4 separate regions of the Homo sapiens genome follow, and all the other regions are linked to region 3. Evidence: fine-mapped expression QTL. A gene starts in region 3. Each other region holds a variant in brackets. All regions are shown on one strand. Distances are between the middles of the regions.

Evidence for each region. PIP is the estimated chance that this variant, and not a neighbour inherited with it, causes the effect.
Region 1: its variant is fine-mapped to the expression of BMP1 in whole blood (INTERVAL, PIP above 0.99).
Region 2: its variant is fine-mapped to the expression of BMP1 in whole blood (TOPMed, PIP 0.96).
Region 4: its variant is fine-mapped to the expression of BMP1 in cerebellar hemisphere (GTEx, PIP above 0.99).

Annotation. Positions count from the first base shown.
Region 1 is chr8:22,285,860-22,290,859 of GRCh38, forward strand. PIWIL2 (piwi like RNA-mediated gene silencing 2) reads left to right here. Exons shown (of 23, transcript NM_018068.5): 7 at 1,669-1,786; 8 at 2,683-2,807; 9 at 3,988-4,068; 10 at 4,374-4,487. Among named protein-coding and RNA genes, the nearest start is that of PIWIL2, 13 kb to the left of the region's middle. The variant G/A (reference allele first, on the strand shown) is at 2,356.
Region 2 is chr8:22,206,870-22,213,027 of GRCh38, forward strand. It overlaps BMP1 (bone morphogenetic protein 1), which reads left to right. Exons shown (of 20, transcript NM_006129.5): 17 at 1-112; 18 at 434-647; 19 at 2,576-2,826; 20 at 4,725-5,457. The coding sequence ends at 4,859. Among named protein-coding and RNA genes, the nearest start is that of PHYHIP, 22 kb to the right of the region's middle. RefSeq lists enhancers at 3,294-3,985, 3,986-4,676, 4,677-5,368. The variant T/G (reference allele first, on the strand shown) is at 3,392.
Region 3 is chr8:22,162,913-22,168,853 of GRCh38, forward strand. BMP1 (bone morphogenetic protein 1) reads left to right here and starts at 2,460. Exons shown (of 20, transcript NM_006129.5): 1 at 2,460-2,641. The coding sequence starts at 2,494. SFTPC (surfactant protein C) reads left to right here. Exons shown (of 6, transcript NM_001317778.2): 3 at 168-290; 4 at 524-634; 5 at 989-1,147; 6 at 1,354-1,567. The coding sequence ends at 1,129. RefSeq lists a silencer at 1,716-2,755.
Region 4 is chr8:22,225,859-22,232,016 of GRCh38, forward strand. It overlaps PHYHIP (phytanoyl-CoA 2-hydroxylase interacting protein), which reads right to left. Exons shown (of 5, transcript NM_014759.5): 1 at 5,938-6,158; 2 at 2,335-2,528; 3 at 993-1,167. The coding sequence starts at 2,499. Among named protein-coding and RNA genes, the nearest start is that of PHYHIP, 3.2 kb to the right of the region's middle. RefSeq lists enhancers at 1,256-1,963, 1,515-2,714, 1,964-2,671, 4,776-4,945, 5,871-6,158. The variant T/C (reference allele first, on the strand shown) is at 2,793.

The DNA.
Region 1 (5,000 bases), 120 kb after region 3:
GTCTCAAACTCCTGACCTCAAGTAATCCACCTGCCTCGGCCTCCCAAAGTGCTGGGATTACCGGCATGAGCCACCATGCCTGGCCAGAAACTTCTATACTATTTCTAAAGGTAGCTATACTAGGAAGGCTGAATTTGTGAAGGGCAGCTGCTAGTTGATGACACAAGAGGAAGAAGTGGAGTGAAAGAGAGGAGAAAGGAACAGTTAGGGAGAAAATATTCTGAAGGTATGTTATAAAGACCAAAGGAAGGACTCTTTTGAATGAAGGTAATGAGAAGGTGGTTGACTTTGGCCACAGGAAAAAAAGCAACTGAATTTGCTTGTTGAGGGTGTTGTGATCTTCTAGCAGTTTTGTTACAGTTGTAGAGAAAAAAAAGGAAAGATGAAAAGCACAAAGGAGGGCATAGGCCATGAGAAGTAGCCACTGACTTGGCCACTCATTTAAAAAGTTTATAAGAGGAATGAGAAATGGAATAATTATAGAAGGCAACAGGATTGCTGTAATAGTTTCTATGAGGTAAGAAAGCGGAGCTGAGCACATACAACAGGTAGAGGGAAGTAGCCAGAAAAGTGGGGGAAATTGGATCCCAGGAAACAGGCTTGTTGTGAAACATACAGCAAAGAGGTGAGCATTAAACAGAGGGGAGAGGGCTGCATGCAGTGGCTCACGTCTGTAATCCCAGCACTTAGGGAGGCCGAGGAGGGAGAGTTGCTTGAGGCTAGGAGTTCCAGACTGTCTTAGGTAACAACAACAAAAAATTTTATTTATTTATTTATTTTGAGACAGAGTCTCACTCTGTTGCGCAGGCCGGAGTGCAGTGGCACAGTCTTGCCTCAGTGCTACCTCCATCTCCCAGGCTGAAATGATTCTCATGCCTCAGCCTCCCGAGTAACTGGGATTACAACCACATGCCACCACACCCCACTAATTTTTTTGTATTTTTAGTAGAACAGGGTTTCACCGTGATGGCCAGAGTGATCTTGAACTCCTGGCCTCAAGTGATCACCCACCTCGGCCTCCCAAAGTGCTGGGATTACAGGCATGAGCCACCGAGCCAGGGCAAAAAAAAATTTTTTTTTAGTCAGGTGTGGTGGTACCCTTATAGTCCCAGTTACTTGGGGGACTGAGGCAGAAGGATCACTTGAGCCCAGGAGTTTGAGATGGCAGTGAGCTATGATCATGCCAGTGTACTTCAGCCTGGGTGACAAAGGAAGACCCTATCTCAAAAAAAAAAAGGGAGATGGGGAGAAGTCTTCCTCTTAAAATGGAGTGACAAATGTTAAGGAAACAAAGGGAGAGTCACTTGAACTTGGGAGGTGGAGATTGCAGTGAGCTGAGATGGCTTCACTGCACTCCAGCCTGGGCGGCAGAGCGAGACTCCGTCTCAAAAACAAATGTGTATATATGAAAGAATATACACTGACGTGCTAAGGCAGGTGTCCTTTGGTGGTAGGATTTGGTGGTTTTTATTTTTTTATGACCTATGGTTTCTGATGTTTCAGCTGCGAGCAGGTCTTCTTGAGTCAAAGTTCTAGGCAGATAGATAATTTTTAATATGCCCGCTAGATGGAGCAGCAGTTACTGGGTAACTAGCACCTGTTGCACAGCTCTGGTAAAGATTGCAGTTTGAGTCAAGTTAAAGGAAAATCCTCTTCATTATTTTCCAGCCCCAATGTGGAGTGCAAAAGCATGAGGTTCGGCATGTTGAAGGACCATCAAGCTGTCACCGGCAACGTCACTGCGTTTGATGGATCTATTCTCTATCTGCCTGTTAAGCTTCAACAAGTGAGACCAAACAGGAAATGGACTTTGAGATGAACCCTAAGAGTGCTCTGGCGTTTTTTGTTTGGTTTTGCTTTTAAGAGATTGGGTCTTGCTATGTTGCCCAGACTGGTCTCGAATTCCCAAAGCCCTGGGACTACAGGCGTGTGAGCCACTTCACCTGGCCCAGGACTGGTGTTTTGAGGGGTAGGAAACCATAGAATTCCTGTATGTTCGAGTTGTGCTTTTCTGTTCATAGAGGGGAAGACAGATTTCTGCAGGACATCACAGCACATTTTAGGTTTGAATTCCTCAAGAAGCACCTTCTCACATGAGAGGAATGGTTGGAAGTCTGTGACCTCAGTGATAAAGAGTAACTTAAAATTGCAAATGTAGGCCGGGTGCGGTGGCTCACGCCTGTAATCCTAGTACTTTGGGAGGCTAAGTCAGGTGGATCACGAGGTCACGAGATTGAGACCATCCTGGCTAACACGGTGAAACCCTGTCTCTACTAAAAATAAAAAAAATTAGCTGGGCATGGTGGCAGGCGCCTGTAGTCCCAGCTACTCAGGAGGCTGAGGCAGGAGAATGGC[G/A]TCAACCCAGGAGGCGGAGCCTGCAGTGAGCCGAGATCACGCCACTGCACTCCAGCCTGGGTGACAGAGCGAGACTCTGTCTCCAAAAAAAAAAAAAAAAAAAATTGCAAATGTAAACTTGGTTGGAATTCTCTTACCAAATCATTTTTCTGAATCGTAGTTGTCATGCTGTGCTTTTGCTAGTGTGGGCAACAAAGTGAGGGGAAAAGTAGAAAAATGTTTTAAGATACTTTAGTGTTCTTAAGAACACAGTTGAATTAGATTAGGACTTGGTCATTAGTTCTTAGTTTTGTCATTTTGTTTCACCTGTGTGTATTTATTTGTTAGGTTCTTGAGTTAAAAAGTCAAAGGAAAACAGACAGTGCTGAAATCAGCATTAAGATTCAGATGACAAAGATCCTGGAGCCCTGCTCTGACCTGTGCATTCCCTTCTACAATGTTGTTTTCCGTCGGTAAGAAAACAGCTGAAGTTCTATTGTCCTGTAACTTCAGTCTTGTATTTACAGTAATGTTCTTCAAGATACTTGGATGGAAATACGTGACAGTATATTCTAGATGGGTTTGGAAGCATTTAATGAATAAATGGATGGTATTGAGGCTAACTTACTCAAAAATTATCTCACAAGTGGTAGACCAGATTTGAATATATGAAATTAGGTTTGGAGGTAGCTGGATAGGGGAACGGGTTCCTCCAGTTGTGTTCAGGAACTTTGAAAGCGGCTGTTGATAGTGCATATTTAATGGTGACGGTAACAAGGGGGCTACTTAAAGAGGTTGTGTGTAAAAATATTTGCTGGAAGGATTTTTCAGTGTCTTGAATTTTTGGATTACAGACAGCTCATAATTGTTTAACTTCTTTTGAAACATCCTAGTTTTCATACAGCCGCTATTCTCTTATTTAATGAAACACAACCTAATTTCTTTTCTTTTCTTTTTTCTTTTTTTTTTTTTTTTTGAGAGACGGAGTCTCGCTCTGTCGCCAGGCTGTAGTGCAGTGGCGCAATCCCGGCTCACTGCAACCTCCGACTCCCTGGTTCAAGTGATTGTCCTGCCTCAGTCTCCTGAGTAGCTGGGATTACAGGCATGCGCTGCCACGTCTGGCTAATTTTTGTATTTTTAATAGAGATGATGTTTCATCTTGTTGGCCAGGATGGTCTCGATCTTTTGACCTCGTGATCTGTCCACCTCAGCCTCCCAAAGTGCTGGGATTAGAGGCGTAAGCCACCGCGCCCGGCCCATGGAACCTAATTTCTACCTAGTAAGTTGAACTGCCAGGAGTAAACATAGCTCCCTTTGCCACACTGTTATTCACACACTTAGCAATGGGCTGTCTTGCATTCTTCGTAGTTAGTGGTGAAAAGTAACGTAATAAAACCTTGGAAACCAACTCAGTGTTTGGTCAGCTAGTAAGTGGAAAAGACTGCTGTCATTTTGCTTTGCTTTTTCAGTCAAATGCTTTGGCAGTTTTTGGTTTTCTTTTAACAAGATTGTTCTCAATATAAAAGCTGTCTTCTGCAAAGAGCACAAACATTTCTAACCGTTCAGACTTCCAAAGGCAAATGTAGCTAAGAATAATGGAACATAATTTTATTACTCTTCTATTAGAAAACTCATACTTGCTTTTTATTTCAGGGTAATGAAACTTTTAGATATGAAGCTTGTGGGGAGAAACTTTTATGACCCTACAAGTGCTATGGTACTACAGCAACACAGGTTGGTACTTTTTTCCCTTCCCTCACTTTTGAATGTTCTGGAAAGAAAGTTTCCATTACAACCATTGTATTTAGTACTATAATGTCAGCAGTAGTTTATGGTAGTGAATACAGTTTATCAATTAAATCTCTTCCTTAGTTTGGTTTTTCAGTAAGTTTGCAATAATGTCAATTAACTTAGTTTCTTGAGGCTTTCTCATTACTATTAGGGAAGGGCAGTATCACCTCAATGTTTTGTTCACATGGGGGCATGGAAGTATATGTGTTCTTTGAAAATCCTACAGTTGAGACCACCTCTCTCTCCAGATTGCAGATCTGGCCAGGCTATGCAGCTAGCATCCGAAGGACAGATGGAGGGCTCTTCCTGCTAGCTGATGTCTCCCATAAGGTCATTCGGAATGACTGTGTGCTGGATGTCATGTGAGTGAATGGTGGGGTCTATCTTTAACATGCTGATGATTTTCTGAAAAGTTCAGTAACAGCTGGTAATAACACACATTAGACATTGTTCTGTTTGTTTGTTTTTTCCCCCAGAGACAGGGTCTTGTTTTGTCACCCTGGCTGGAGTACAGTGGTTTGATCATAGCTCGCTGTAACCCTGAACTCCTGGGTTCAAGTGATCCTACCACCTCAGCCTTCTGAGTAGCCAGGACTACGGGTGTGCTACCATGCCCAGCCAATTTTTAATTTTTTTTTTTTTTTTTTTTTGTAGAGATAGGGTCTTGCTATGTTTCCCAGCCTGCTATGTTTCCTGGCTTCAAGGGATCCTCCTACCTCAGCCTCTCAAGGTGTTGAGATTATAGGCATGAGTCATGGCACCCAGCCCTGTTTAGATTTTTAGTTGTAGAATAACTGAACTGAATATATGTGCCCTCGTCTCTAGTCCTCCTGAGATAAGCATCTGAATAGACATCTGCTGTGCTTTGAGAAGGA
Region 2 (6,158 bases), 44 kb after region 3:
GGTGACATCCACCAGTGGTACCATCACCAGCCCCAACTGGCCTGACAAGTATCCCAGCAAGAAGGAGTGCACGTGGGCCATCTCCAGCACCCCCGGGCACCGGGTCAAGCTGGTAAGGGGTCCCCTCCCCACTCCTTATGCGGTGTGGCTGCCCCCGGTCAGAGGCACTGCCCAGAGCCACACAGGCTGCAGGCTGAGCCCAGAGGTCTGCCATCCCCAGGAGACCCCAAGTCTGGCCTGGACAGAGGCCCCTTTCCCAGTATAAATTAGGGGCGTCCCTGCCTTCGCCCTATTCCTGGGCCCTCCTTCACTGTCATCCCCAGCTGTGGCTGCTCCCATGGGTATCTGTGAGGCCTAGGTTTGGGGCCCTCATCCTTGCCCCACCTGCCTTCCAGCCAAATTTTTAATCTGTGCTCCTTCCTCATCCCCCTAGACCTTCATGGAGATGGACATCGAGTCCCAGCCTGAGTGTGCCTACGACCACCTAGAGGTGTTCGACGGGCGAGACGCCAAGGCCCCCGTCCTCGGCCGCTTCTGTGGGAGCAAGAAGCCCGAGCCCGTCCTGGCCACAGGCAGCCGCATGTTCCTGCGCTTCTACTCAGATAACTCGGTCCAGCGAAAGGGCTTCCAGGCCTCCCACGCCACAGGTACTGTCCCCGGTTGTGGGAGTGTTCACTGAGCCTGGTCTCCAAGACTGGGGTAGAGTCGGGGGTTTCAATGCGGGTATGAAGGTACAGAGGGACTGAGCCCTGCGACCCAGGGCCAGGGTTGTGGGTGATGCAAACATTGTGTCCTGAGAACCAGGCCTGGGGGGCAGGGATAGGAGGGTGTGGTTAGGGGTTAGGATGGCAGTGATGACGATGGACAGGAGAGGTGAGGGAACTCAGGGACAGAGAGGAAAGCCCCCAGAGGTCCCCCTGAGCGTACGCGGGCCACCGCAGCAGCCCAGCCACACACCAACCCTGAAATATACTCTATTCATTCTCTGATATTTATTTTTTTATTTTTATTTTTATTTATTTTTTATTTTTTGAGATGGAGTCTTGCTCTGTCGCCCAGGCTGGAGTGCAGTGGTTCGATCTTGGTTCACTGCAACCTCCACTTCCTGGGTTCAAGCGATTCCCCTGCCTCAGCCTCCCGTGTAGCTGGGATTACAGGAGCCTGCCACCATGCCCAGCTAATTTTTGTATTTTTAGTAGAGACAGGGTTTCGCCATGTTGGCCAGGCCAGTCTCAAACTCCTGACCTCAGGTGATCCGCCCGCCTTGGCCTCCCAAAGTGCTGAGATTACAGGCGTGAGCCACCGTGCCCAGCCCATTCTCCTGATACTTATTGACATGTAACATGGATGAGGCGGCATCCTAAATGCAGGTCCCAGAAACAGACCAAGCAAAGATCCCAGCCCTTGAGGGGCTTGCTCGGCTTTCACTTGCTTGTTTATTTAGCAGCCATGAACTGAGCTCCGCTCTGCGAGAGGACTAAGGGGCACGTGGCCTGAATCAGGCATGAGCCCTTCACTCCTGCCCCCCACCCCATACTAGGAACTCGCAGTCCAGGAGAGAGACAAGGCAGGCACCGCCCGTGACAGCATGAGCCCAAGCGGGAGCCAGGCAGGAAGAAAGGCACCCCGGCCTAACTGGGCATGTGTTGGTAGAGGCATTCGAGGCAGGGGGAGGTGCCCAGGCAGAGACACAACCCCAGCCCAGCCCAGAGTGTGCCCAGGTGACAGCAGGTCATTTACTTTGGCCGAAGCAATGGGTGTGTGAGGACAGCAGGTTGTGGGAATGATGTGGCTGCAGAGAAAGGCTGGAGTCCAGGGGGATGCCTTGAGTGCCAGACCAAGGATGCCACGAGGGAGCTTTGCAGTCTCCTCCTGGGTCCTAAGCCACCTGTCAGGGCATCCCCAGAGCTGATGGTCCACAGCCTCCCCTCTTCCCCTTCAACTCAGTCCCTGACCCAGCCCCGTCCTTCCCTCTCCCCACCTCCTCTAGCGAGACCTGAGTGCCAGGTGCACAAAAGCCAGAGGGCCTGGGGAGGAGGGTGGCCCCATGCACTGTCCTCTGCCCTTCCCAGCACAGGGTCACAAACCGGAGGCCCGGAACTCCATCTGGCCCTCAGACCTGCTATGTTTGGCCCACACTGTGTTTTTTTTAAAAATGTGAGCCAACACTTAAAAGTTAGGAGTTTTCACATAAAACCCAGATGTACGGCTTCTCTCTTGAAAATGGAAGCTGTGGCGACACTGGGCCCACATTCTTCCATGACAGCCATCAGCTGGAGAAAATGAGCAATGCCCTCTTTAGACAAAGTGTGTGGTGCCTCGTGCCACCGCTCCATGCTGTCTTCCTCTCGGTGAGCCTCACTGCCTGTTCCCCTCAGCCTAGGGCCAAGGTCCCTCTATTTAGAGATGGGGCAGCACAGCAATGTTCTGGGCCAGGCCCCCACCCACCCATCACTGGCCTCGTGGCCTTCACCCAGGCCTCCATCCTGCCGTGAGGGCACGCCATGGCATAGTGTGCCATGGGGCCTGGCACCTGCGGTGCTCAGGGCTGGTTGGCCCCTCTTGTCCCCTACAGAGTGCGGGGGCCAGGTACGGGCAGACGTGAAGACCAAGGACCTTTACTCCCACGCCCAGTTTGGCGACAACAACTACCCTGGGGGTGTGGACTGTGAGTGGGTCATTGTGGCCGAGGAAGGCTACGGCGTGGAGCTCGTGTTCCAGACCTTTGAGGTGGAGGAGGAGACCGACTGCGGCTATGACTACATGGAGCTCTTCGACGGCTACGACAGCACAGCCCCCAGGCTGGGGCGCTACTGTGGCTCAGGGGTGAGGCCCCCACCCCTCGCCCTCCTGGCCCCATGCCCCACGCCCCACACTGTCCTCCACCCTTCTCAGCCCAGTCTCCAAGACCTAGCGCCCACACAGGCCCCGGAAGTTGAGTGCAGCACGCGTGTGGCCCTGTGTGGGAGCCCAGAAGCCCAGCCTTGTTGGGGCTACTCAGAGACACTGCCCCATCCCCGACGTAGGAAACCAAGTCCTTTCTGGGCAACCTAGAAGTTCCTGCGGCCTCTGACCCAGGCCTGCCTCAGAACCAGTTGGCCACGGCCTGGAGCGGATGGAGCTTCCTCTGTCCCTCCTTTCCTTACCCCTCCCCCAAGGCAGCCCACCAGGGCCTGGAATGGGGGGCAGAGGTTGGCACCAGAGCCGGGGACAGGGCGCCTGAGCGGAGTGGCCCTCACCAGTCCTTTTGCCGGAGGCATAAACACTCTTGTCATTTCCTCTACCAGTTTCTCCTCCTGATGAAAGGCCAGCTTGTCCCAAAGCTCTTGCTGCTGCTGTCCCAGTGGCCCCTGGGCACTGCTTCTTGGTCCATAAAATGGCACGTTAAGAG[T/G]CAATGAGCAAAAGTAGGCTTGATGGGCTTTTCCCTAAGGACATGGGCTAGCCTCGTGGGGAGGATTTATTTTCCTCCCTGTAAGAGCTTGCAGCTGCCTCTTCTTCTTTTTTTTTTTTTTTTTTTGTCCTTTCCTGAGGGCTTCAAAGAGACAGACTGTCTTCCTACCCATCTCTCTCTCTTTCCCTCTCTCTCTCTCTCTCTCTCTCACACACATACACACACACTGGCACACCCACTTGCATGCACTTTCAAATACACTGGCCCTCCTGTCACCTCCCTGTCCCCTTGCCTATCTCATGGCTGTATCCCAGGCAGCCTGGGTGCCCCAGGAAGGGTTAAAGCTCCTGGAAGCTGCAGCAGCTGCTGGACCCAGCATTGGCTGAACCTCCCCCAGGAGCAGAGCTTCAGCCCTCGTGTGGCTGGCAGGGGCTGGGACAAGGTGGAGCCTGAAGCAGCTTGGCTGCCCTGGTGTCCCCTGGCTGCCAGGCTAGTGTCCCCTCCCCTCTTTGCTCTTTCTTCTGAATCACACACCAAATCGGATGTCCCCAGGTGTCTTCTTCCAGAGACCTCCCCCAGGCTGAGTTGACCGGAAGGAACTTGGGGAAGGATCAGGGCCTCCTGGCACAACTACTCGGAATGTCCTCAAGGTTCTCAGAAATGATTTCTTCTGTGCCTGGAAGGCCAGGGCGTTGACGTCCGATGCTCTGAGGGCTGACCTCACTCAGTAGGCTTGCAGGAGGCACCTAAGAAGGGCTCGGGAGCAGACCTTGGCCAGGTGCCAGAGGAGAGGCGGGGCAAGGGGTAGGGATGGCAGAGTCCAGGCCTGGGGGGCACTGTGCTTCTCTCCAAAACTTCCTCCACACTCCAGCAGAGAAGTGGCTGTGCCGTCTTCCCTAAGAGTCCACTGGGACAGCAGGAAGTGATGCCATTCAAAGAACTCCCTCCCTTTGCAAAATACTTTGACATCGGTGCAGTCCTTTGTTTTTCCCCAGCACCCCTCCTAGGCATGGAGAGCAGAGACCTTTTGCTCCTGTTTGTGGCTGAGGGAAGTGAGGCCCAGAGATGGGAGGTGGCTTGCCTGAGACTACACAACTCATTTAGTAGTTATAGCAGAGCTGGGTTTACGGGAACTTAGTTCTCTTCGGCCCACGCCTCCTCCCCTCCCCAGGTTCCTCATTAAACCAGCAAGAAGCCCTATGCTTCAAGGGGCGGGGAGAATCTGGTGGCTGCCTGGGAGCCTCCTGCCCTTCAAAGCTGGGGATCTTGGGGAGGCAGGACAGCAGCCCCAGCCCCTCTTCCTCCACCTTACCCCATCTCTTTTCTCTGCCAGCCTCCTGAGGAGGTGTACTCGGCGGGAGATTCTGTCCTGGTGAAGTTCCACTCGGATGACACCATCACCAAAAAAGGTTTCCACCTGCGATACACCAGCACCAAGTTCCAGGACACACTCCACAGCAGGAAGTGACCACTGCCTGAGCAGGGGCGGGGACTGGAGCCTGCTGCCCTTGGTCGCCTAGACTGGATAGTGGGGGTGGGCGGAAGGCAACGCACCATCCCTCTCCCCCAGGCCCCAGGACCTGCAGGGCCAATGGCCTGGTGAGACTGTCCATAGGAGGTGGGGGAACTGGACTCCGGCATAAGCCACTTCCCCACAAACCCCCACCAGCAAGGGGCTGGGGCCAGGGAGCAGAGCTTCCACAAGACATTTCGAAGTCATCATTCCTCTCTTAGGGGGCCCTGCCTGGTGGCAAGAGGGAATGTCAGCAGGACCCCATCGCCATCCCTGTGTCTCTACACGCTGTATTGTGTATCACCGGGGGCATTATTTTCATTGTAATGTTCATTTCCCACCCCTGCTCCAGCCTCGATTTGGTTTTATTTTGAGCCCCCATTCCACCACCCCAGTTTCCTGGGGCACAAGTGTCTGTGCATGTCCCCCAGGAGCCACCGTGGGGAGCCGATGGGGAGGGGATGGAGAAACAAGACAGGGCTTCTCTCAGGCCCAGTGGCCGGTCAGCCACACCAGGGCACCGCAGCCAATAAACCGAAAGTGTTACAGCCAATATCCTGTGCCAGATGCTGTCTGGGCCATGGGGGCGGGGCCATCATGTTCCAGATGTATGGGCTTGCTGTGGAGGCTGGCACGTAGCCAGGGCACCTGGCATCACGGGCTGCCCTTCCCTCCCCTGATCCCAGGCTGCCAAGGGTGTAATTTCACACTCAGGCACAGATACTCGCAGGCACCCATCACAGCGCGCACACACACCACACGCACTGCTCGCGGTCCTCCCACATGAGGGGAGGGGTGGAACATTCCATAAAGTGGCTGTTTGGTGGGGAGGGAAGAAGGATGTGAAAGGGGTCAGGGGTGTCTGTCCGTCTGGGTTTTCTGTCTCTGCATCTAGGGAAGGAGTAGGTGGGCTGCAAGGGTGTCCACCTAGGTGAGCACACGGGGGCCAGAAAACCCACATCGGCTGGGACAGGTCCAGTTGGCCCCTGGTGCCTGTCTTCCTGCCGGTCAGATGCTGAGTGCTGGTCCCCATGGATCCCCCTGTCTTCGTGGAGACAAGAGCCAGAACTCAGCGGCCACTGAGCAAACATCCCAGCTCTGGCCCCACTTCCCAGGTGACCCAAATCTATGTCTTGTCTGGCCTCCTTCTTCCTGCCATCGCACACCCCGCTTCCCCATCCCAGACCTGTACCTCCCAGAGGCCAGGAGGAGAAACCACATCTCAGTTCCCTCTCTCCCCTCTCTCTACATGGA
Region 3 (5,941 bases):
CCCGCAGCAGGACAGCCAGCTCCCTCCAGCACCTGGTTCCACTCAGCCTCCCTGAACTCTTGGGAAAGAGGGAAGCGCATTTGAGTACAGAGGCCTGAGTATGGGGATGGGTACCACTGGCTGAGTAGGAAAGGGGAAGACCAGGTGGCTCCATGCCCTTTCCCCAGGTTCTGGAGATGAGCATTGGGGCGCCGGAAGCCCAGCAACGCCTGGCCCTGAGTGAGCACCTGGTTACCACTGCCACCTTCTCCATCGGCTCCACTGGCCTCGTGGTGTATGACTACCAGCAGGTGGGTATGCCCAGACCTCCTGACCCTGGGACCAATGACAAGGCTCTGCTAGAGCCACCCAGCTGGGCCACTTCATCCACATCCATCTCTCCCTCTCCTCCAGACCTTTTTTGCCTGAGCCCCAGATTCTAGTATGACTCCCGTGCCCAACCTAGAGGGAGGTGGCTAAGGACCTGGGTCAGGGAGAGAGCAGGGCAGGGACCCCCGAATGATCTCCAGCATTCTGTGCCTAGCTGCTGATCGCCTACAAGCCAGCCCCTGGCACCTGCTGCTACATCATGAAGATAGCTCCAGAGAGCATCCCCAGTCTTGAGGCTCTCACTAGAAAAGTCCACAACTTCCAGGTGTGTGTGTGTGGGTGAAAAGAGTGGGCTGTCTCCCTCCCAGGGCTGCTGGGAGGAGTGTCCGAATGGTGGCTATTTGTCACCTGTAAAGCACTGTTCCTCATTGGCTGCCAGCTGACTGCCCCTCTCCTATTCCCCTGCACGACTCCTTTCCTTCCCACCCCACTGCCAAGCTGCTGGGCTCAGCTGAGTCCACTCACTACCTGGTGGCTTCTGACTCTAGCACAGCCCCTCTTTACTGATGAGAAAACTGAGGCTCAGAGAGATTGCCTGATATACCTGAAGTCCCACAATAAGGGCTGCACATGGGATAGAAACTCACTTCCTACATTCCAGATGGAATGCTCTCTGCAGGCCAAGCCCGCAGTGCCTACGTCTAAGCTGGGCCAGGCAGAGGGGCGAGATGCAGGCTCAGCACCCTCCGGAGGGGACCCGGCCTTCCTGGGCATGGCCGTGAGCACCCTGTGTGGCGAGGTGCCGCTCTACTACATCTAGGACGCCTCCGGTGAGCAGGTGTGATCCCAGGGCCCCTGATCAGCAGCGGAGGAGCGCTCGGGCCACCTGCCCGGGCTGTGGAGGAGCGCTCGCGCTGACCAGGCGCTGGGGCGTCCACTGAAGCGGGGTCATCCAGGCAACTCGGGGGAGGGGAAGCTCACAGACCGGTACTTCCCACTCCCCTGATTCTCTCTGTCCATCCTCAACATTCCTTTGCTTCACAGGGTCAGTGGAAGCCCCAACGGGAAAGGAAACGCCCCGGGCAAAGGGTCTTTTGCAGCTTTTGCAGACGGGCAAGAAGCTGCTTCTGCCCACACCGCAGGGACAAGCCCTGGAGAAATGGGAGCTTGGGGAGAGGATGGGAGTGGGCAGAGGTGGCGCCCAGGGGCCCGGGAACTCCTGCCACAACAGAATAAAGCAGCCTGATTGAAAAGCAAAGGGTCTGCTTCTGTCTTCCTGCAGGGCGCAGTCCTGCCCTGGCGGGGGCCGGCCAAGAAGGGAAGGGCCTTGGGAGAGCAAAGTGGGGTTTGCCATTCGCCCTCTGTCCCAGGGCGCTGGGGCACTGGGTCCACCTCGGCGGGGGAGAGGGGCTCGCAGGGAGCCATCCACGGGCTTTCGGCGCCCTCCAGCGGCGTCTCCGGAGGAGGGAGAGACACCAAGACAGCGAGAGAGACAGAGCGCAGAGAGCGAGACGCGAGAGAGCGAGGGTCCAAGAAGGGGAGATAGGGAGACGCGGGCGGAGAGACCGACCCGAGGCGGGGGCGCGGGGCAGGGGCGGCGCGAGGACCTGACAGCGTGTCCCGCGGCGGGGCGGGGGCTCGGCCGCGCGCCCGCGGGGGAGGCCGCCGCTAGAGGGCACTTCAGGAGGGACAGCCCTCCCGGCACCCCGGGGCCCGAGCTCCAGCCCCGGCCTCGCGGCCCGCGGCCCGCGGCCCGGGCGGCCCGAGCCCCCTCCCCGGGCGCGCGGCTCTCCGCCTTCCCCGCCCCGGCTGGCGCGCGGCCCGGCCCGGCCGAGCACTGTCCCGGCCCCGAGGGGGGCAGAGCTCGGGCGAAAACCCGCCCTCCAGCGAGCTCATTTCCCTAAAAAGGGGGGGGGGAGTCGGAGGGAGGGAGGGAGGGAGAGAAAGAAAGAGAGAAAAAGAAGGAAAGGGAGAGGGAGACGGCTGGAGCCCGAGGACGAGCGCGGAGCCGCGGACCGAGCGGGGGGCGGGAGACAGGAAGGAGGGAGGCGAGCAGAGGGAAGGGGAAGAGGTCGGGGAGCGAGGGCGGGAGCGGTCGCGGTCGCGATCGAGCAAGCAAGCGGGCGAGAGGACGCCCTCCCCTGGCCTCCAGTGCGCCGCTTCCCTCGCCGCCGCCCCGCCAGCATGCCCGGCGTGGCCCGCCTGCCGCTGCTGCTCGGGCTGCTGCTGCTCCCGCGTCCCGGCCGGCCGCTGGACTTGGCCGACTACACCTATGACCTGGCGGAGGAGGACGACTCGGAGCCCCTCAACTACAAAGACCCCTGCAAGGCGGGTGAGCGCCCCCCGGCCCCCCGGCGACGGGCCAGGCGGGGAGGCGCGGGCGGGTTCGGGCTTGGGGTTGGGGGAGGACAGTCCAGTGTGGGAAGCCGGGAGCTGCCTGGTTGGCAATGCAGTGGGGAACAAAAGAACGAGGGGGAGAGGGAGGGGGATTTGGGGGACTTTTCGGACTGAAGTTTTGCCGCTGTTGGTGGAAGCTGCTGCCGCTGCCTCTCATCTTCCCAGAGGATTCCAGAGGAAGTCTCCTTGCGTCCCGGGAAAACCGGCGGGCAAGGCGGCTTTTCCTTCTGTAGGAAACTTTTCTGGCCAAACTCCTGTGCGTGCGTGTGTGTGTGTGTGTGTGTGTGTGTGTGTGTGTGTGTGTGTGTTCTTTCCCCTTCTCCCCCATCTCTCCTGCTCCAGGAGCTGGGTGTTTTCCAGCCTGTCTGGGCTGCCCTGGGGCTGCACATCTGTCTGGCTTGGATCTGGGAGGCCTGAGTCTCCAAGGAGCAGGTCCCCCAGCCACCACCCAGCCCAAGTGGAAGAAGAAAGTTTTTCCAGGGATTCCCTGAGATCGTGCTCTCTGGGTATCCCGTAGTTTAACCAGTAGCTGAAGCTTTCTGGGACTTAGGAGACAGCTGTCAAAGTCAGAGAAGCCAACCCAGAAGGGGGACTTAACTTTGTCCCTATGTGCCCAGAGACCCCCGCCAAGGCCAAGTTGGGGTGGAAAGAGGGAAAATACAAAGAGAACCCAGATATTGTATATCAGCTCTGTCACCCCCGAGACACCAGAGGCTAATTAGCTGAGGTCAGGACCCCGGAGTGTGTGTTTGCCTGTATGTGTGTGTGTTCTTTGTCTCTGAAGACTCTATGTAACCCCATCACTCCTGCTGAGCCCAGAAGGGTCCTGCCCCTGGAGTGACCAGATGGCCAGGCACTCGGGCCATTTGCCTGATTGGATGACCCTGGGCAGGCTGTTTGGGGACACACAGGGACAAGATATCAGAACTTTTCCTTGACTTCCTGCCTCTCTGACTTCAGCTCATCTCCAAATAGCCAGAGCCAGGGGAAGTGGCATAGTTGCTAGAACTGGACTGCCTGTGTGGGGCACCAGGGGCGGAGGGGCAGGTTGCTCTAGTCCTGGCTCTGGAGACCCTGTTCAGGGACTCTCCTGGGAGGGTGGCCCACAGGCAGGAATAAGAGACCATCCAATGGAGGAAATCAGGGCAAATCCCTCAGCCCTTACCCCTCTACACCTGCTGGGCTGCGGGTAAACCAGGACATTTGCTGTCATTTTTCTCGCTGGGGGCTGGGAGTGGGTACAGGGCAGAGTGGACTGCGCATGGACTTTGAAGGCAGGCACATCTAGCTTTCAATCCTGACCCTGCTACTCATTATAGCTGTACCACCTCAGAATGGTAATGATCATGTCTGAACTGCCACTTTCACACCTGTAAAATGGAACTGATCATGCATCTTCCCATAGAGTTGGTGGTAAGGGTTAAATATGAAAACATACATAAAACACTTAATAGTGCTTAACACACAGTCAGCGCTAAATAAATGTGGGCTCCCTACTCCCTGTTTTCTGTGCCTCAGACTGTCACTTCATTTTTTTGAGAGGTGTGGGATTGCTGGTGTCTCCTTGTGCCTCTTATCCATCAATCCATCAATACCTAATATGTGCTAGGGCCTGGAATGGATGTTGTGGGAGGTACTGAGACGTACAAGCTAGGACCCTGCCTTCAAGGAGCTTACAGTCCAGTAGGGACCCAAGACACCTACAGACATAACCAATAGCACAAACCAAGCCACACTGAGTGCCACATTGGAGGGTAGGATGCCAAAGACTCAGGGAGTTTCCTGCCCCTCTGCAGCCTGGTGGTGGCAGAGAAAAGTGATCACAGCAGGCTGAGAAGGTCTGGGGGGGTCTTCATGGAGGAGGTGGGGCTGGGGCCTGGCCTTAAAGAATGGGTGGGAAGCCATTCTGATGTCTTTCCCTTCTTGTTGGAAATGGGAGTGATTTTCAGAGCAGCAAGAGGCTGAGGGCTCTCCCCCCAGTCTCAGGTTTCATGCTAGGGTGGGGCTGGCTGAGTTGGAGCTTCAAGTAAGGGCTCTGGAGAAAGCACTCCAACTGGGTGAAGTGAGGCTGGTGGGGCGCTGGGCCAGGGCTGGGGGCGGCTGAGAGGGCCCCCGGGCCTGACAAGGCCAGGCCTTGGGTCAGATCAGGCCTCCCTCTCGGGTGTGACTGATGCTTGAGATCTGCTGCCCACCTCCAGAGGAAACTCACATGGGCATTCCTAAGTACTCACACCCACACCCCTGTGCCACTGCCTTCCAGCCACAGGTCCCTCAGCTCTGTTCTCCACGTTTCCTTCTCCTGCCTGGCTTTGCTTCCTGTATCCTCTGCAGCCCTGACCTCCAGATGCTGGAGGTGATGATGGCAGGCATGCTGTCTCTGCTTCTTTTCAAGGGCTGGAACTGAAAGCTCCTTTGACTCCCACAGCTTACCTGTGACCTTTCCAGTTGCTCTGAGGGTAGCCACGCCCCTTCGTTGGACCATTACTGGCCGAGTTATGGTTGCCGTTGTAGTGAGGGCAAAATTAATATCCTTGATACCCTGGAGAGGTTCCTGGACCTTCTGGGTGAGACCAGGACGTTGGGCAGGAAGGCAGGCTGGTCTGTTTGTGTGCTCAGAGCTGGTGCCACCAAGCCCTCACTAGCCCTTGCCCAGGAAGATTTTGAGGCAGGCCTGATTTCCTGTATGTCAGGAAATCAGCCAAACCATGAAGGGGGTCCTTCTGCAAGATTCCCAGCACTGTTTGGCTGCCCCAGGTGACTAGCCAACACCCCCCCGGAGAGACCTTGGAGGCAGGAATTGGGACACAGTTGATCCCAAAATCAGAGAAGCCCAGGGGCCTGACCCCACAGGGGTGGGGCTAGAAGCATGTCACACCCAGAGCTGGGTAGTGACCCTGTGCCAGTGAGGCCCCTGCTACCACCTCAACCTCATCTGACAGCCCAGAGTCTGCAGGAGCGGGAGGGGCAGCACTTACCAGCCCACATCCCCATCCCACCCAGGGGGACGCCTGGCCAAGGTTTGGACATCAGAGAGCCATAGAGGATTAGGGTACACCCTCTGAGGTCGAGAAGTAATCTCTCCTCTCACCAGACCACATTCCCCCTCTAGACAGCTGAGTCACCCCACCCACCCAGGCCCCTGCCCCTGAGTCACCTTCTTATTTCAGTGCCGCAAGGGGTGAGGAAAAAATTTGTACTCTCCCTGGGCCCTACATGGGGCAGGGCGGGGCAGTGG
Region 4 (6,158 bases), 63 kb after region 3:
AGACAACAGCAGCTCAAGGAGACTTGGGGCATAAATCTTGGCAAAGGATAGAGCCAGCAGCCTCAGAGGCCCGGGGCTGAGAATGTTCCGTGTCTCTTCTGTGTGACAGAGAGATCTGGAGCAGCTCTCACCGTGAACACCAAAAGAATGTAATCTTGTGGGGGCAGACCCTGAGTCGTGAGGGACCAAGCACACATAGGCCCACTGTTTGTTTGTGATGGAGTCTACAAGTTAAGTTCTGCTAAGAGAGTTTGCGGGGCCATTGACCAGGGGCCATTTTCCCAGGCTACGTGAAGGCTCAGAACAAGTGAAATGTGATTGCCTCACCAAGTGCACATTGACAAATAATTGATTAAGCAAAATGTGGTCTATCCATACAATGAAATACTATCCAGTTTCAAAAAGGAAGGAAATTTTGGTATATTCCAGTCACAAAAAGACAAATCCTATACAATTGTACTGATATGAGACACCTAGAGGAGTCATATTCATAGAAACAGAAAGTAGAATGGTAGCTAGCAGAGGGAAATGGGGGGCGGTTATTTAATGGGTATAGAGTTTTGGTTTTCCAGGAAGAAAGGTTCTGGAGACTGGCTGTACAACAATGTGAATATACTTAATACCACTGAACTGTACACTTCAAAATGGTCGAGACGGCAAATTTTACGTCATGCACCTTTGACCACAAGGTTTAAAAAGATGCCTGTGATCTGGTACCAAGCCCGAAAAGTAACTCCCTTTCTTAATGGAAGTGGTCTTGCCAGCGTGATTAGTGGGGTTCGCATTTGCCTCCAGTGAGAGAAGAGAAAGGTTGGGCTCCTGGAGGCAGGGAGGGTGTCATGCCCGTGCATCTCCCCTGTGGCCCAAGCACGCTGCCTGGTGGACAGAAGGTGTTCATCAGTGTTTGCTGGACTACGAGGAAGACCCGCCTTGACCACAGCAAAGCCCGACGTGCCAAGCAGCAGGACAGGGGTGTGATAGCAGGGCCTCACCCCCAGTGCAGAACTCCACCGTCTCGCTCCAGCCGGACACCAGGTACTCCCCATCGCTCTGCTTCACTGCCGTCTGCACGGCCACACTGTACTCCGTGCGGGGGCTCAGGAACCAGTGGCCTCTCACCGTCATGGGCAGCGGCACTGCCTTGGCCACGAGCTTGGTGGGGACGTCCTGAGAAACAGGGTACAAACAGAGAGCCAGGCGTCAAACAGGGGTTCATGCCCAATCTGGGCATCACCCCAGAATCCCCACTCCCCAGATGGCCCTGTTTCTCCTGAGCAGGACCAATCTTGAGGATCCAATGGCTCCATACCCTGGCCACCATTTTCCTGGGAAGGCCACCCAGACACTCCACAGCCTTGGCCCCTCCTCGAACCCCCCTGACACCCCGTTCTCTTGGGAACGGAGGGGAAAAGCCACAAAGTTGAGGACGGCAAGGCCTTCATTTTTTAAGGAGACTTTGAGAGCTCTGCACACTGCAGTGCCGTCTCCACGGCAACGGCAAATGCTGAGAAGCCAGGGAGGAAGGGAAAATATGCCTTATTCTTTGGGGGGGAGGGTTAAGGGGGTGGTGTTGAACATTCACGTCACCGTGGCAACTGGCCTGCCAAAAGACACCCAGATCGGGAGAGCCGGTTCCAGAGAAAGAGAGCGGGTGAGTAACCCACGCCGGTGCCGTCGGCCTGGGAGCCAGCTGGCCGCCTCACTCCCCCTGCCTCTGCCAGCTTGAGAGGATGGGGGTCTTCCTCCCACCCACCCCCACACTGGCTTTTAACCCCAGGAAAGGACACACCCACGGAGGACTCTCTCCCATTCCTTTTCTAAGTCAAGCAAATGGCAGGCCAGCAGGTGAGGGGCCCGAGAGGGAGAACTGAGGCCACAGCAAAAGGGCTCCGCCCCGACCGAGGCCCGTGTGGCCCACCCAGCCAACAGCGAGGCTGTGCCCTGAGCCGGGGCTTTGTCGAGACTTGAGACGTCATCCCCATAGGCGAAGCCTGCGGCCCCACCCTACCCGGGCTCTCTGCCCCTGCCTGAAGTCTCAGTTGTGGCGCTGATAACAACGCTCCCTCTGTGCTAGGCGCCGGGCCAAGCACCACGCAAACATGACTCACTGCATCCTCTCCACGACCCCGTGAGGCTTGGCATTGTTATTCCCTCTTTACCAGGGAAGGAGCTCAGGCTCAGAGAGGTCAAGTAACTTTCCCAAAATGACACAGGAAGAAGAGTGTGGATTTTAACCAGCCTCTGACTCCAAGCCATCACTTCCAGGTGTTCCCTTATCCGGCCTCCTTCAGGAACAGAAGCTGGGGAGGGGCTCCCAGGACACCTTCTACTCACCCGGTGCTTGAACTTGTTGGAATTCTTATTCTCCTTCTTGTTAAGGTCAATGAAGTAATGGGTGACCCTCTCCAGGTCACTGTCCTCCATGGCCCAGGAGATGCGGAAGGAGTCGCAGGTGATGTTGTTGATCTCAATGCTGTGGGGCGTGGACAGCAGCTCCATGCTCCCGTCAGGGTTGTCTCCTGTGGGGACTGAGGAGGAGGGAAAGGGTCAGTACATCCCTTGACCCCGGCGAGCTTTCTGGAATGTCCTCCTCCCAATATCCCTTTCGAGGCGGAACCTCAAGGACCCCTGGAATCCACATGCCTCATGAACCAGATGGGAAAGACTGTACAGGGGAGGCTGGAGAAGGATGATGGAGGGTGGAAAGGGGTGCCTGCCCGGGGGGCTCTTTGCTCTCCTCGGAGGGGTCTGCAGAGCAGACGGCACCTGACAGGTGGCAGAGGCAGTGGGAA[T/C]GCTGCAAAGCCGGGCGGGGACAGATTTGCAGCAGATGGAGCCGAGGAGGGAGGGGGCCCTCAGCCAGCAGGCGTGAAAAGAGAAAGGGGTGGGGGTGGAGAGGACGGGTGAGAGGCGGAGGAAACGCAGGAAGCACCTGCTGTGGAGCGGAGGTGCGAGGCTTGGGGCAGGTGACAGCCAAGAGCTCACAGGTGCCAGGGCCCTCGGATTCAGGCCTCTCTCCTCACTGGGGTCAGCAAGCGTTGCCGCGGTACATGGCTGGAAGGACAAGTGCCACGTTGGTGCATGTGGACACATTCGTGGTGGGAGGGGTACGCGGCACAGCCGGCTTCAAGCTCTTTTTCCACCCATAACTTTTTTTGATGATCCCTCTTTCTCTTTCGGCCAATCTTCTCTTGACTCCTTTCAATCATGACTTTTAACATTAACATCTATTAGGGGCCGGCCATGTGCTCATAATTTCACAGACGTCTCATGCAACCTTGGAAGTAGGCACACACTATCATTATCTCCATTTTACAGATGAGGCGACTGAGGTTGGGGAGGTACTAACATGCCCAAGGCCACGCAGAGAGCAAATGATTTGAACTCCGGCACCCAAGCTCTTGATCACTAAGCTAAGATAGTGTCCCCTCATGTGTGGGGGTGGAGGGGCACATGTGTGGCGTGTGTGCATGCATGGGTGCCCATGGTGTTTCCACCTGGCATTTTTCCTCCTTCCATCGTTTCCTTTCAAGCAACTGCATTTTCTCTCCCCTCCCTGTCTTACTCCTTTGGTTCTCCCCTTATGTCTGCTGCTCGTCCAGGTATGAGAGGACCTCATCACGGTCACTCTCATGTGTGCTTTAGCTGGGAAGAGCTGACTCTGGCCATGACTCTGGCCTGGCTGGCCTAGCTCCGGGATGGGGAAGAGCAAAGGGAAGGGGAGTGACAGCGTCTGGGAGGGGACAGCAGACGTGGGTGGGGCATTCTCCAGGGGCATTTGGTCTCCTGCTTTCCAATCCCTTCCTCCAGCCCAGTTCCTGGCACCCCTCATTTTTCTAAATGTCACCTCCTTCTCTTCTTTCTCCCCTCTTTTTCTCCTCCCCTTGCCCAGGAGCTAGTGGTGAGGGCATCTTGTGCCTGCAAAAGCAGGTACTTTTATTTATAGCTTCCAGAGGATCCAGCCCACACCTTCCTGTCAATTAAGCTTGCTCCAGAGCCTGGCACCTCTGTATTAACCTGTGAGTTGCCTGGATGGCAAGTACAGGGTGAAGGCTAAAGGTGATGGCCCTTACCTGCTCCAGGTGTCACTCAAGTCCTGTTTCATCTTAGCCTCCCACCCCACAGCCAAATGCCGGTGGCTTTGTGCATGGGGAATCCTATGGTAAATAAGCATGGCGGTGCTACCAGGCCCACCCCAAAATCAGGCAGATGGGATTGAGTGTCTGGAAACAACCCTACCATAATAAACCAGTTTGTAATTCATGGGGACAGGTGTGGAGCAGTGGGGAGTTACCATCTCTTGGGAACCTGGTGAGAAGCTCCCAGGGAGACACACATGTGCCCCTCACACACACACACGCACACACACACACGAACACAGACACACTCCTACCCAAGAGGCCCTGAGCGGCACCCACCCACACGCTCGGAGGCAGCCCACACTCGTCCCATGAGTAGGCACCTATTCCTGCCTCTCCTTGGAGTCCTCCTAGAAATAGGGGCAGCTGTGTTTGGCGGTAGGGGTCTCCAGGACCTGGGTGTCTGCTTGTCCCTCCCTCCCTACGGTTCTGGGAAAGCTGAGATGACATCCCCCCGCTAGCTTGGGAGGGTGGCAGTGAGTGAGCTGGGGTGGACAGAGGGGTGGGTGTGAACCCAAGTTCTCTACACCCAGAAGACTGGGGAAGGGCAGGGTGTGAGGGACAGGTTGAGGCAACACCCGAGAAACACCCACACTCCTGTGTGGATCCACCCCAAGACAGGCATGTACACACCCACACACAGGCAGGCACGCACGCGCATACACACATGCGCCAAGAGTGCCCACCCACCCGCGTCCCACACCTCCGCAGATGTCCTCACTCCCACACACCCATCTCCACATTCAGGTGCCTGCTGCCACCTTCCACATTCTAAGAATGCCCCACAGTTTTCCCTCTTCAATCTGTCACCTCCATGCACACCCAGACATGTTCATGTCCACAGGCTCACGCACACACACGTCCACGCACACCGCCTCACAAGCCATATGTGGGGAAAAGAGGATGCCACAGGCACCAACATGCATGTGTGCCACCTCCACAAGAAGGCACGCAACCCACACGCCTGCCGGCACACACATGTGTGTTCATACACACAGCAGCCCCCGCCCGAAGTCTGGTATTCTCTCTCGAATCATCTCCAGGCTCAAAGACAGACTTTGAAAATGTGTTTGCCTCTGGCCACACTCTGCCAGCCCTGAGCCTTCATGCCAACAGGTTTGTGCACCTACGTGGCTCTGCCCACAGACAATGGTTTCTGCCCCTTCTTCTCTTTACCCACTCCATCCTGCTCTGGGTCTCACCTCCCCATATAGAAAGCCCCTGTCTGCATACACTCCCACACACATGAAAAGGGACATGGTTACCCCTAAATATACTGCCTCATAGTGTCCCCACCCACGCACACCCACAGGCTACTCAAATAAGTCCCCCACACACATGTACCTCACGTGTGCCAGAAAGATATGTTTCTAGACATGCCTCACACCATTCAAAACCCACACATGAGCATGACTGCGGACAGACGGACCTATCTGCGCCAGCAAGCCTCCAGCCAACTCGCGAGCGCGCACACACACACGCCGCGCACACCGGTGCCCCTTCCCCATGCCCATTCAAACAGCCACCCTGCCACAGGGAATGCTTCCCCCACCCTGCTGTCCCTGTTGGCATCGCTGACTGCAGCAGAACGGTCACGGGGTGACTAACTGTGGTGCCCCAGAGACTGGATTCAGCCATTAACCACTTTGCCAAAGGCCTGGCCGGGGGGGGGGAGAGGGGACAAGGTCGTCAGGCCTGGCAGTCCAGGTGGGCACCCTGGGTGGTGGCAGGACCCTAGAGCCCCCAGATCCCGGCTACTCAGGATCAACAGCAGCAGGTTCCAGGGAGGAAGGGTACTCACCTGGCTCCACTGGGCTCTGCAGAGGAAAAGCTCGCAGGGAGGACAGGGAGAGACCTCTGCGTGGATGAGCTCCCCGGCAGGGGACAGCAGCCGGACGCCTGGGTCACGGGCAGTGGCGTGCGCTTGCTCCTCTCCCGGCTGCCAAGGAGGCTGCTTCCATGCCCCGCAGCCAGCTCCTGTCTGGCTGTGCAGCGCGTCGCTGCTGCCCCTGGTGAGACGAT